Homo sapiens: one gene and its partners. The protein of the gene in region 1 interacts with the protein of each later gene in a pairwise test. Each region holds a gene or a part of one and is shown in the gene's direction. Other genes may lie near its edges.

The links.
Region 2: the proteins of SLC19A3 (region 1) and C3orf38 interact in a two-hybrid assay, tested with the Homo sapiens proteins (one large-scale study listed by BioGRID and IntAct).
Region 3: the proteins of SLC19A3 (region 1) and CREB3L4 interact in a two-hybrid assay, tested with the Homo sapiens proteins (one large-scale study listed by BioGRID and IntAct).

Annotation. Positions count from the first base shown.
Region 1 is NC_000002.12:227,690,412-227,694,064, reverse strand, and holds part of SLC19A3 (thiamine transporter 2), read left to right. Parts: intron 1-3,653. UniProt on the Homo sapiens protein: Mediates high affinity thiamine uptake, probably via a proton anti-port mechanism. Has no folate transport activity. Mediates H(+)-dependent pyridoxine transport.
Region 2 is NC_000003.12:88,152,907-88,155,812, forward strand, and holds part of C3orf38 (uncharacterized protein C3orf38), read left to right. Parts: intron 1-323; coding exon 324-565; intron 566-2,906.
Region 3 is NC_000001.11:153,966,392-153,970,801, forward strand, and holds the start of CREB3L4 (cyclic AMP-responsive element-binding protein 3-like protein 4), read left to right. Parts: upstream 1-1,510; 5' UTR 1,511-1,773; exon of another isoform or gene 1,774-1,793; intron 1,794-1,858; exon of another isoform or gene 1,859-1,990; intron 1,991-2,130; 5' UTR 2,131-2,134; coding exon 2,135-2,308; intron 2,309-2,538; coding exon 2,539-2,785; intron 2,786-2,942; coding exon 2,943-3,064; intron 3,065-4,410. UniProt on the Homo sapiens protein: Transcriptional activator that may play a role in the unfolded protein response. Binds to the UPR element (UPRE) but not to CRE element.

The DNA of each region.
Region 1 (3,653 bases):
TTGCTTGTTTTTTGGATAAAAGCCATTCAAATTGAAGTGAGATAATATCTCATTGTAGTTTTGATTTATAATTCTCTTATCAATGATGTTGAGCACCTTTTCATATACCTGTTTGCCATTCGCATGCCTTTAAAGAAACATCTGTTCAGATTTTTGCCCATTTTTAATCTGATTATTAGACTTTTTTTCCCTGTAGAGTTGTTTGAACTCCTTATATATTCTGGTTTTTAATCCCTTGTCACATGGGTAGTTTGCAAATTTGTTTTTCCATTCTGTGGGTGGCCTCTTTCCTTGGCTGTGCAGGAGCTTTTTAACTTGATGTGATCCCGTTTGTCCATTTTTGCTTTGGTTGCCTGTGTTTGTGGGGTACTCAAGAAATCTTTGCCCACTCCAACGTCCCAGAGAGTTTCCCCAATGTTTTCTTGTAGTTGTTTCATAATTTGAGGTCTTAGATTTAAGTCATTAATCCATTTTGACTTGATTTTGTATATAGTGAGAGATAGGGGTCTACTTTCATTCATTCTTCTGCATACGGATATTCAGTTTTCCCAGCACCATTTGTTGAAGAGACTGTCTTTTCCCCAATGTATGTTCCTGGCATCTTTGGTGAAAATGAGTTTACTGTAGGTGTGTGGGTTCACTATTGGGTTTCTGGGTTCACTCTTCTGTTCCATTGGTCTACATGTCTGCTTTTATGCCAGAACTATGCTGTTTTGGTTACTATAGCTCTATAGTGTAATTCAAAGTCAGGCAATGTGATTCCTCCAGTTTTTTGTTGTTGTTGTTGTTGTTGTTTCATTTTGTTTTGTTTTGCTTAGGATAGCTTTGACTATTCTGGGTCTTCTGTGGTTTCATATAAATTTTAGAATTGCTTTTTCTATTTCTGTGAAGAATATCCTTGGCATTTTAATAGGGATTGCATTGAATCTGTAAATTGCTTTGGATAGTATGGGCATTTTAACAATATTGATTCCTCCAGTCCATGAATATGGAATATCATTCCATTTTGTGTGTGTGTGTCCTCTTCAATTTCTTGTATCAGTGTTTTATAGTTTTCATTGCAAAGATCTTTCACTTCTTTAGTTAATTCTTAGGTATTTTATCTGTAGCTATTGTAAATAGGATTACTTTCTTGATTTCTTTTCCAGATTGTTCTGTTTGCATATAGAAATGTTATGGAGTTTTGTATGTTGATTTTATGTCCTGCAAATATACTGAACTTATTTATCAGTTCTAATAGTTTATTGGTAAGAGTCTTTAAGTTTTCCTAAATGTAAGATCATATCGTCTGCAAGCAAGGATAATTTGACTTGATCCTTTCCAATGTGGATGCCCTTTATTTCTTTCTCTTGTCTGATTGCTCTAGAGAAGACTTCCAGTGCTATGTTGAATAGCAGTGGTAAAAGTAGGCATCCTTGTCGTGTTCCAAATCTTAGAGAGTAAAGCATTTCAGCTTTTTCCCATTCAATCTGGTACTAGCTGTAGGTCTGTCATATATGGCTTTTATTATGTTGACTATGTTCCTTCTATACCCAGTTTTTTGAGGGTATTTAGCCAGAAGGAATGTTGAATTGTATCACATACTTTGTTTAGCATCAATTGAATGATCATAGTTTTTGTCCTTCATTCTGTCGATGTGATTTATCACACTGATTGATTTACATATGTTAAATGATCCTTGCATCCCTGGGATAAATCCCACTTAGTCATGATAGATTATCTTTCTAATGTATTATTGAATTCAGTTTGCTAGTATTTTGTTGAGAATTTTTGCATCAATATTCATCAGAGATTGGCCTGTAGTTGTTTTTTGTTTTTAATGTGTCTGGTTTGGTGTTAGGGTAACACTGGCCTTGTAGAATGAGTTTGGAAGTATTCCCTCCTCTGTTTTTTAGAATAGTTTGGTTAGGATTGGAATTAGTTCTTTGATAGAATTCAGCAGTGAAGCCATTGGGTCCTGGGCTTTTCTTTAGTGGGAGGCTTTTTATTATGACTTCAATCTTATTACTTATTATTGGTCTTCTCAGGTTTTGGATTTCTTCATGGTTCAATCGGATAGGTTGTTTGTATATAGGAATTTATCCATTTCTTCTAGATTTTCCAATTTATTGGCATATACTTGCTCATAGTAGCCACTGATGATCCTTTAAATTTCTGCAGTATTGGTTGTAATGTTTCCTTTTACATCTCTAGTTTTATTTACTTGGGACTTCTCTCTTTTTCTTAGTCTGGCTAAAGGTTTGTCAGTTTTATCTTTTCTAAAACCCAACTTTTTGTTCATTGACATTTTGTATTGTTTTCTTCATTTCAATTTCATTTCTTTCTGATCTGATATTTATTATTTCCTTTCTTCTACTAATTTTGGGTTAAGTTTACTCTTACTTTTCTAGTTCTTTATGACGCATCATTAAGTTATTTATTTCAGATGACTTTTTTTTTCTTCTTTTCTTTAAGAGACAGGGTCTTACTATGTTCTCCAGGCTGAACTGCACTGGCGTGATAATCTCTACTCACTGCAACTTCTGCCTCCTGGGCTCAAGTGATCCTCCTGCCTCAGACTCCTGAGAAGCTGGGATCACAAACATGCACCACCACACCTGGCTAATTTTTGTGTATTTTTGGTAGAGACAGGGTTTCACCATACTGCCCAGGCTGGTCTAGAACTCTGGAGCTCAAGTGATTCATCTGCCTCAGCCTCGCAGAGTGCTGGAATTATACACATGGGCCACCACACCCGGCCTCTCTTCTTTTTTTTATGTAGGCACTTGTAACTATAAACTTCCCTCTTAATACTGCTTTCACTGTGTCCTATAGGTTTTGGCATGTTGTGTTTCCATTATCATTTATTTCAAGAAATTTTTCAGTTTCTCTCAATTTCTTCATTGACCCACTGGTCATTCAGGGGCATATTGTTTAATTTCCATGTGTTTCTATGGTTTCCAAAATTCCTCTTGTTGTTGATTTCTAGTTTTATTCTATTGTGGTCAGAGACGATGTTTGATATTAATTATTTCAAATTTTTGAATATGTTTTAAGAGTTGTTTTGTAACCTAACATGGTTTATCCTTGACAATGATCCATATGCTGAGAACAATGTGTATTCTGTGGCCATTGGATGAAAAGTTCTGTAAATATCTATTAGGTCCATTTTTTCTATAGTGCAGATTAAGTCTGATGTTTCTTTATTGATTTTCTCTCTGGAAGATCTGTCCAGTGCTGAAAGTGGGGTTTTAAAGTCTCCAACTATTACTGTATTGGATTCTCTTATCTCCTTCTAGCTCTAATACTTGCTTTATATATGGGTGCTCCATACGTTAAAAAAAATTTACAATTTTTTTTTTTTTTTTTTTTTTTTTTTGAGATGGAGTCTCGGTCTGTCACCCAGGCTGGAGTGCAGTGGCACGATCTCAGCTCACTGCAAGCTCCACCTCCCGGGTTCACACCATTCTCCTGCCTCAGCCTCCCGAGTAGCTGGGACTACAGGCGCCTGCCATCATGCCCAGCTAATTTTTTGTATTTTTAGTAGAGACGGGGTTTCATCGTGTTAGCCAGGATGGCCTTGATCTCCTGACCTCATGATCTGCCCACCTCGGCCTCCCAAAGTGCTGGGATTACAGGCATGAGCCACCGCGCCTGGCCGTATTTACAATTTT
Region 2 (2,906 bases), on another chromosome or scaffold:
GACTGTTGGCCTTATTAGAAAAAATATTTTTTCTCACTTAAATGTTTTCTTAAAATGTAATTCTTTAAGAGGAAATGCTAAACTTTCACTATCACTTATGGGAAGTGAACAGAAGAGATTTTAGGTAAGGGAAGTTTAAGGCATAAAGATGTTAAAAGAAAACTGACAACGGACTTCCTATTTTTTAAAAATGATGACTATCATGTAACAGCAATAATGCTGTGACGAGAGTTTATAAACATATTTGATAGAGTTTCTGCCCACCTGGCACAAATTTGTAAGTGCCTCATGATTTTTTATTAATCTTTGCAATTTCTTTCTAGATGCTGTTCATGCAATATTAGCATACAGTCAAAGTGCAGAAGAACTTCTGAGGCGTAGAAAAGTCCACCGAGAAGTTATATTTAAGTACTTGGCAACACAGGGGATTGTTATACCTCCAGCTACTGAAAAACACAATCTTATTCAGCATGCAAAAGATTACTGGCAAAAGCAACCACAACTGAAATTGAAGGAAACGCCAGAGCCAGTTACAAAGACAGAGGACATCCACCTATTTCAACAGGTAAAATAAATCTTATGGTTGTATTCTGAACCTTTGTTCTGTCTGAAACTTTGTTGATAATCCTAGATTGTGGGGAACATGGTTAATAATGTTTGTGGGGTTTTTTTATTTTTATTTTTTAAGAGATTCTTGCTCTGTTGCCCAGGCTGGAGTGCAGTGGTGTAATCATAGCTCACTGCAGCCTTGAACTTCTGGACTCAAGTGTTCTGCCCACCTCTGTCTCCTGAGTAGCTAGGGCTACAGGCATGCACCACCATGCCTGGCTAATTTTTAAAATTTTTTGGTAGGGATAGGGTCCCAACTATGTTGCCCAGGCTGGTCTTGAACTCCTGACCTCAAGTGGTCCTCCCGCCTCAGCTGGAATTACAGGCATGAGCCACCATGCCCAGCCTATTTTTTTTATATTTTATAATTTTAACTTTATTTCATATCCTATCAATCCTGAAGGAAGGAAGAGACCAGTAAAGCAACTAAGAGCAAAAATATTTCTGACATATAGTGATGCATATATAATCATCTATTGATATGTGAGAAAGTATTTTTCAATATCAGCATCATCAAATGAGGACTATTGGATTTTTAGAGAGTAAACTGCAAGGTTAATTTTAACTTTAGCTCCGTGTAATTTTTTTTCACTTTAGAAGAATTTTATTGCAAATTCTTTCTCACTTTTAAGACGTTTTTGGTATTGCAAAAATGTCATGAAAGGAACTTAAAATTTTACTTTAAAAAAAATTTTCTTTTAAGTTCCAGGGTACGTGTGCAGGTTTGTTAGATAGGTAAACATGTGCCATGGTGGTTTGCTGCGCCTATCAACCTATCACCTAGGTATGAAGCCCAGCATGCGTTAGCTATTTTTCTTGATGCCCCCGCCCCCACATTGGAACCTAAATATTTTTTATACTTTTTTTTTTTTAACTAGAAAAAGTCCTATTGTAGAAATATTCTCCAGCGGACATTGGCTGTTTCTGTTCTTTATATTATCTCCACTGTACATTTTAGATACTGCACAAATATTTAAGTGTTGCTTGAATTAACCTCTATGTAATTTGCAGATTTTTAAACTACATACCACATTTTTTGAATTAATGAGGTTTCACAGTGAGAAAGCTTTGCCTTCACACTAGGAAAGAATCTTTAAGAGCTTTCTTACTTTATGTACTGATAAGAGCATTGACTTTGAAATCATACAAATACGACTTCAAATTAGGGTCTGCAATATACTAGGTGTGTTAAATTAGGCAAATAACCAGTGCCACGCACAGTGCCCAGTGTATTAAATAGCAGGTGCTCAGTAAACCTAAGATCTCATACATCTCAGTAAAGTACTGTGTTGTGGAACACATGGATGAATGAGATCTAGTGTATCAGGTAGATTTTTACAGTAACTTTTTTTTTTTTTTTTTGAGACAAAGTCTGCCCTGTCACCCAGGCTGGAGTACAGTTGGCATGATCTCAGCTCACTGCAGCCTCCACCCTCTGGGTTCAAGCACTTCTCCTGCCTCAGCCTCCCAAGTAGCTGGAATTACAGGCATGCGCCACTACACTCAGCTAATTTTTGTGTTTTTAGTAGAGACGGGGTTTCACCATGTTGTCAAGACTGGTCTTGAACTCCTAACCTCAAGTGATCTGCCTGCCTCAGCCTCCCAAAGTGCCGGGATTACAGGCATGAACCACCACGCCCAGCTTACAGTAACATTTTCTGTGAAAAAAGAGAAATAATAGAATAAAATTAATCCCAGTTATAGAAAATAACCTGTTTCAATCACCGTAAGAGTATCTATTTAAAGACAATGAAAATGCTTGCTTATATTAACTTTATGTCATTTATATGCAAAATGCATCCATTTAAAGTGAACGTTTTGAAGGTTTTCACATATATACCTGTGATATACATATATACCTGTGAAAACACTGCCACAATCTGAGGAAACACTTACATAAATCATCATATAATTTATATATTTTTATATATGACTGTTCATACTGATTTTTTTTTTTTTTTCACACGGAGTCTCGCTCTGTTGCGCGGGCTGGAGTGCAGTGATGCTATCTTGGCTCACTGCAACCTCCACCTCCCAAGTTCAAGTGATTCTCCTGCCTCAGCCTCCTGAGTAGCTGGGAATACAGGTACACGCCACCATGCCCGGCTAATTTTTGTATTTTTAGTAGAGACGGGGTTTCACTATATTGGCCAGGCTGGTCTCAAACTCCTGACCTCACCATCCGCCTGCCTCCTCCTCCCAAAGTGCTGGGATTACAGGCGTGAGCCACCACGCCCGCCAAGTTCATACTGATTTTTAAATTGGCCTTACTAAACCTTACTCTCTTAGCTGAATTT
Region 3 (4,410 bases), on another chromosome or scaffold:
TCCCAGCACATTGGGAGGCCGAGGTGGACGGATCACGAGGTCAGATCGAGACCACCCTGGCTAACACGGTGAAACCCTGTCTCTACTAAAAATACAAAAAAATTAGCTGGGCGCCTGTAGTCCCAGCTACTAGGGAGGCTGAGGCAGGAGAATGGCGTGAACCCGGGAGGCGGAGCTTGCAGTGAGCCGAGATCGAGCCTCTGCACTCCAGCCTGGGCCACAGAGCAAAAGAAAAACAAACAAACAAACTTGTCAGCTCCATCTGCTGTAAGAATTATATGAGTAACATGGAAATGCCTGACTAGACCCTGTTCCCGTTTTTACCCTTAGCCCGTTCAAATCTTCATAAGGATAATTAGTAGCAGTTTGAGTTCTGGGATTCACACTCCAAACTACTGTTTTACTCACCCAGCTACCCTTTTCTGAAATACTACTGAAAACCATACCTGTATCAGTTTACCTCCATTGTTTTACTTGAAGTGAATTCCTGGACCATCAGACATTAGACCAAGGCAAAAAAATAAAAATAATCAATCAACCCTGAGTTTTGGTATTACTACTTTCTAGTCATGGATCTGCCTCCTCATAGGTAAAATTTGCAAAATATTACCCGCCGTGTGTGCCTCAGAACTGTTATGGATTAAGGAAGAGAACAATTTTTATGAAAACGTTTTGTAAATTATACAAGTGTGGGACATAATGTTCCCGGTAACTGTATGCAAACAATAAGACAACAAACGCAAAAGGCTTTTTAACTTGTTGCAGTTTTCCTGCCCCGTGTCCCTCCGTGAATGAGCAGCGTGCAGCGAGCGTGTGCGCACAGCTGCTGTTCTCCATTAACGCCACACTGCTCGGCTTGCGGACGGGGAAACCCGCCATCGCGCTCCTGCCGCCTGCCGAGCGAGGATCACCGCTCCACTGGGGTCAGCGGGCTGTTGACTCCCCGCCTGGGTGAAACCGGAGCTTCCGAGTCACGTGGCGCGCGAAGACAAACCTGGCTGCTCAGGGTTTCCCGGAGCTTTCTCCCAGCTTCCCGGCGATTCATATTCTGGCGCTTACCCCTCCCTTTAGGCTGGCGGAACCCAATCCCCGCCTGACAAATAAGTCCCGCCGGCCGGACGCAGTGGCTCGCGCCTGTGGTCCTAGCTGCTCGCGGTGCTGAGGCGGGAGAATCACCTGAGCCCGGGAGGTCGGGGGCTGCATGGAACCGTGATCGCACCACCGCACTCCAGCCTGGGCAACAGAGCGAGACCCTGTCTCCAAAAATAAGAATAAAGAAAAAAAAAAGAAAGAACTGCGGCCCCATTGGCCTGACTCTCCTGAACAGCCAAACTGTCTCCGACCAGTTACGGAAGAGGCGGCCTTGAGAGGGTAGTGTGCCATTGGCTCGATGTCCTGCCCCTCCGAAACCTAAGTCTTCAGCTTCCAATCAGGACTCAGCTTTGGGAAGAGCGCCACGCGGTGGGCGAGGGGATGCCCTAGTAAATTCGCAGGTCTCTTGACTCTTTCCGCCTTTGTTTACAACCCTGCCATGATCTCCCTCTTGCAAAAGCGAGGGCTACAGAACAGGCATTCAGGAGTCCTGTGCTCCAGTCACAGCCTTTTCTGTTCTTCAGCTAGGAGACACCAAACCCTCAGGAAGATTTACTATAGCTAAGAGAAAACTGCAGCAGAAAGGGCGCGGCTACCTACTTCTTAAATTCCGTTTGTGGACCCTCAGACTCTTAGTCCCCTACTCCCAGATACAGCGGCCCTACCGTGGCTCCTGGCAAGGTGGCATCCACTTTTGTAGTGTAAGGCTGGGGGCGGGGTTTGGCTGGCAGGTCCAGGATACGAGATCCTGGAAGAAAGAAAAGGTGTAGTGTTTGGGGAGGTCAACGGGCTATGCTGGCTTGACAGGGCTGGGCTCTTCAGAACAGGTAATGCTTGGGGGGGGCCTCTTTGTCTAAACCTGAGGGATAGGGCTGAAGGTGAAATATCGAGGGGACAGGTGAGGGGGCTTGCTAGTGAGGAAGGAGTGGGGGGGCGGGGATAATGGAAAAGGGAGCAGAGGAGCCCAGAAACTGTAGGGGGTAGTAAGCAGCCATCATTCCGTTTCTGCAACCCTCCGTCCCACACGCCTTCCTGCAGAAGCATGGATCTCGGAATCCCTGACCTGCTGGACGCGTGGCTGGAGCCCCCAGAGGATATCTTCTCGACAGGATCCGTCCTGGAGCTGGGACTCCACTGCCCCCCTCCAGAGGTTCCGGTAACTAGGCTACAGGAACAGGGACTGCAAGGCTGGAAGTCCGGTGGGGACCGTGGCTGTGTGAGTGTGACGAGTGGGAGTGGGGGTGGGGTTGAGACACAACTCTGTGATAAGAGGCTTCAGCTCCCACTTGGAGACAGGTCTGAAAACAGACCACCCCCAAAATAGACGTAAGTTGTATAATAACTGTCTCCATGCCCAAGAAGTGAAAGGACTGAAAATGAAGCATAAGTCAGGGAGGACTTCCAAAATTCTTCCCTGCACATATATATAACCTTTTCCTACTGTAGGGCCTTCAAGAGAGTGAGCCTGAAGATTTCTTGAAGCTTTTCATTGATCCCAATGAGGTGTACTGCTCAGAAGCATCTCCTGGCAGTGACAGTGGCATCTCTGAGGACCCCTGCCATCCAGACAGTCCCCCTGCCCCCAGGGCAACCAGTTCTCCTATGCTCTATGAGGTTGTCTATGAGGCAGGGGCCCTGGAGAGGATGCAGGGGGAAACTGGGCCAAATGTAGGCCTTATCTCCATCCAGCTAGGTCAGTGTTCTTTGTGGGAAGGGGGAAATGGCCCTTCGGGACTGGCCCTAACCATGGGGTTAAGGGGGTTTACCCAACCTGTGCCACTACCCAGGCCCTGCGGCTGTCAGGGTGTTCCTAAGTCTCCTTTCTCCCAGCTACCTGTTTTCTACTCCAGATCAGTGGAGCCCAGCATTTATGGTGCCTGATTCCTGCATGGTCAGTGAGCTGCCCTTTGATGCTCATGCCCACATCCTGCCCAGAGCAGGCACCGTAGCCCCAGTGCCCTGTACAACCCTGGTGAGTCTTGGTGTCAGCCAGAACCACTACTCCTTGATACATATATAATCACACAGACAGAGCAAAGGGATGAGGGAATGGAAACTGATGATGAACTGCCTTTGCCCCGGTTTTTGTGGCATTGGGCCTGAAGACCAAGGAGACATGAACAGTTGAACTATTTTTTATTTTTTGAGCCAGGGTCTTACTCTGTCATCCAGGCTGGAGTGCAGTGGTGCAATCACGGCTCACTGCATCCTCAACATCTTGGGCTCAAGCAATCCTCCTGCCTCAGCCTCCTGAGTAGCTGGGACTACAGGTGTGTGCCACCACGTCTGGCTAATTTTTGTAGAGATGGGGTTTTGGGGTTTTGCCATGTTGCCCAGGCTCAGGCTGGTCTTAATCTCCTGAGTTCAAGTGATCTGCCTACCTCAGCCTCCCAGGGTGGTGGGATTACAGGCATGAGCCACTGTGCCCGACTAACATGAACAATTTTTTTTTTTTTTTTTTTTGAGACGGAGTCTCACTCTGTCACCCAGGCTGGAGTGTGGTGGCACCATCTCAGCTCACTGCAACCTCTGCCTCCCGGGTTCAAGCGATTCTCCTGCCTCAGCCTCCCAAGTAGCTGGGACTACAGGTGCCTGCCACCATGCCTGGCTAATTTTTGTATTTTTAGTAGAGACGGGTTTCCACCATATTGGCCAGGCTGGTCTTGAACTCCTGACCTTGTGATCCGCCTGCCTCTGCCTCCCAAAGTGCTGGGATTACAGGTGTGAGCCACCACGCCTGGCCCAACATGAACAATTTTAAAAGCAGGGAAGGACAAGGGAGAAAGAACCCTTGGGGGTAAGGTAGCAAAAACTCAGTTAAGGTGGGGTGAGGGAATCTGGGGACAGGGCTCAGGAGAAAGCCCAGACTTTGCATGCATTGTATTCTTAGCCAGAGCCATTATCTCAGCCTTGGGTCAGGACACAGAAATGGGACAGGCCACCTGGGAATCCCAACTGGTTATAGGTACAGGAAGAAAGAAAAGCAATAGCAGCAATGTTTCCACTGGAACAGTTGCCCAGGAGGCACCCACTGGCTAGTGCTACAGTGTAGCAGAGGTATCACATTAGATGCCTTCTCAAGGCCGTCTGGGCAGCGTCCAAGGCTGGGTAAAGAGGGGACTATGCTCAGATCACTGTTCCTCCCTTTCCTCTGAAAATTACTCCTTGTACCCAAAAGGCAGGGACCAGGTCCTAGCCTCTCTTCAAATCTGCAGTTGAAGCTGGGACCAGAAGCCAAGCTAAGCATCTTAGAATCTTTTTTTTTTTTTTTTTTTTTTTTTAGACAGAGTCTCGCTCTGTCACCAGACTGGAGTGCAG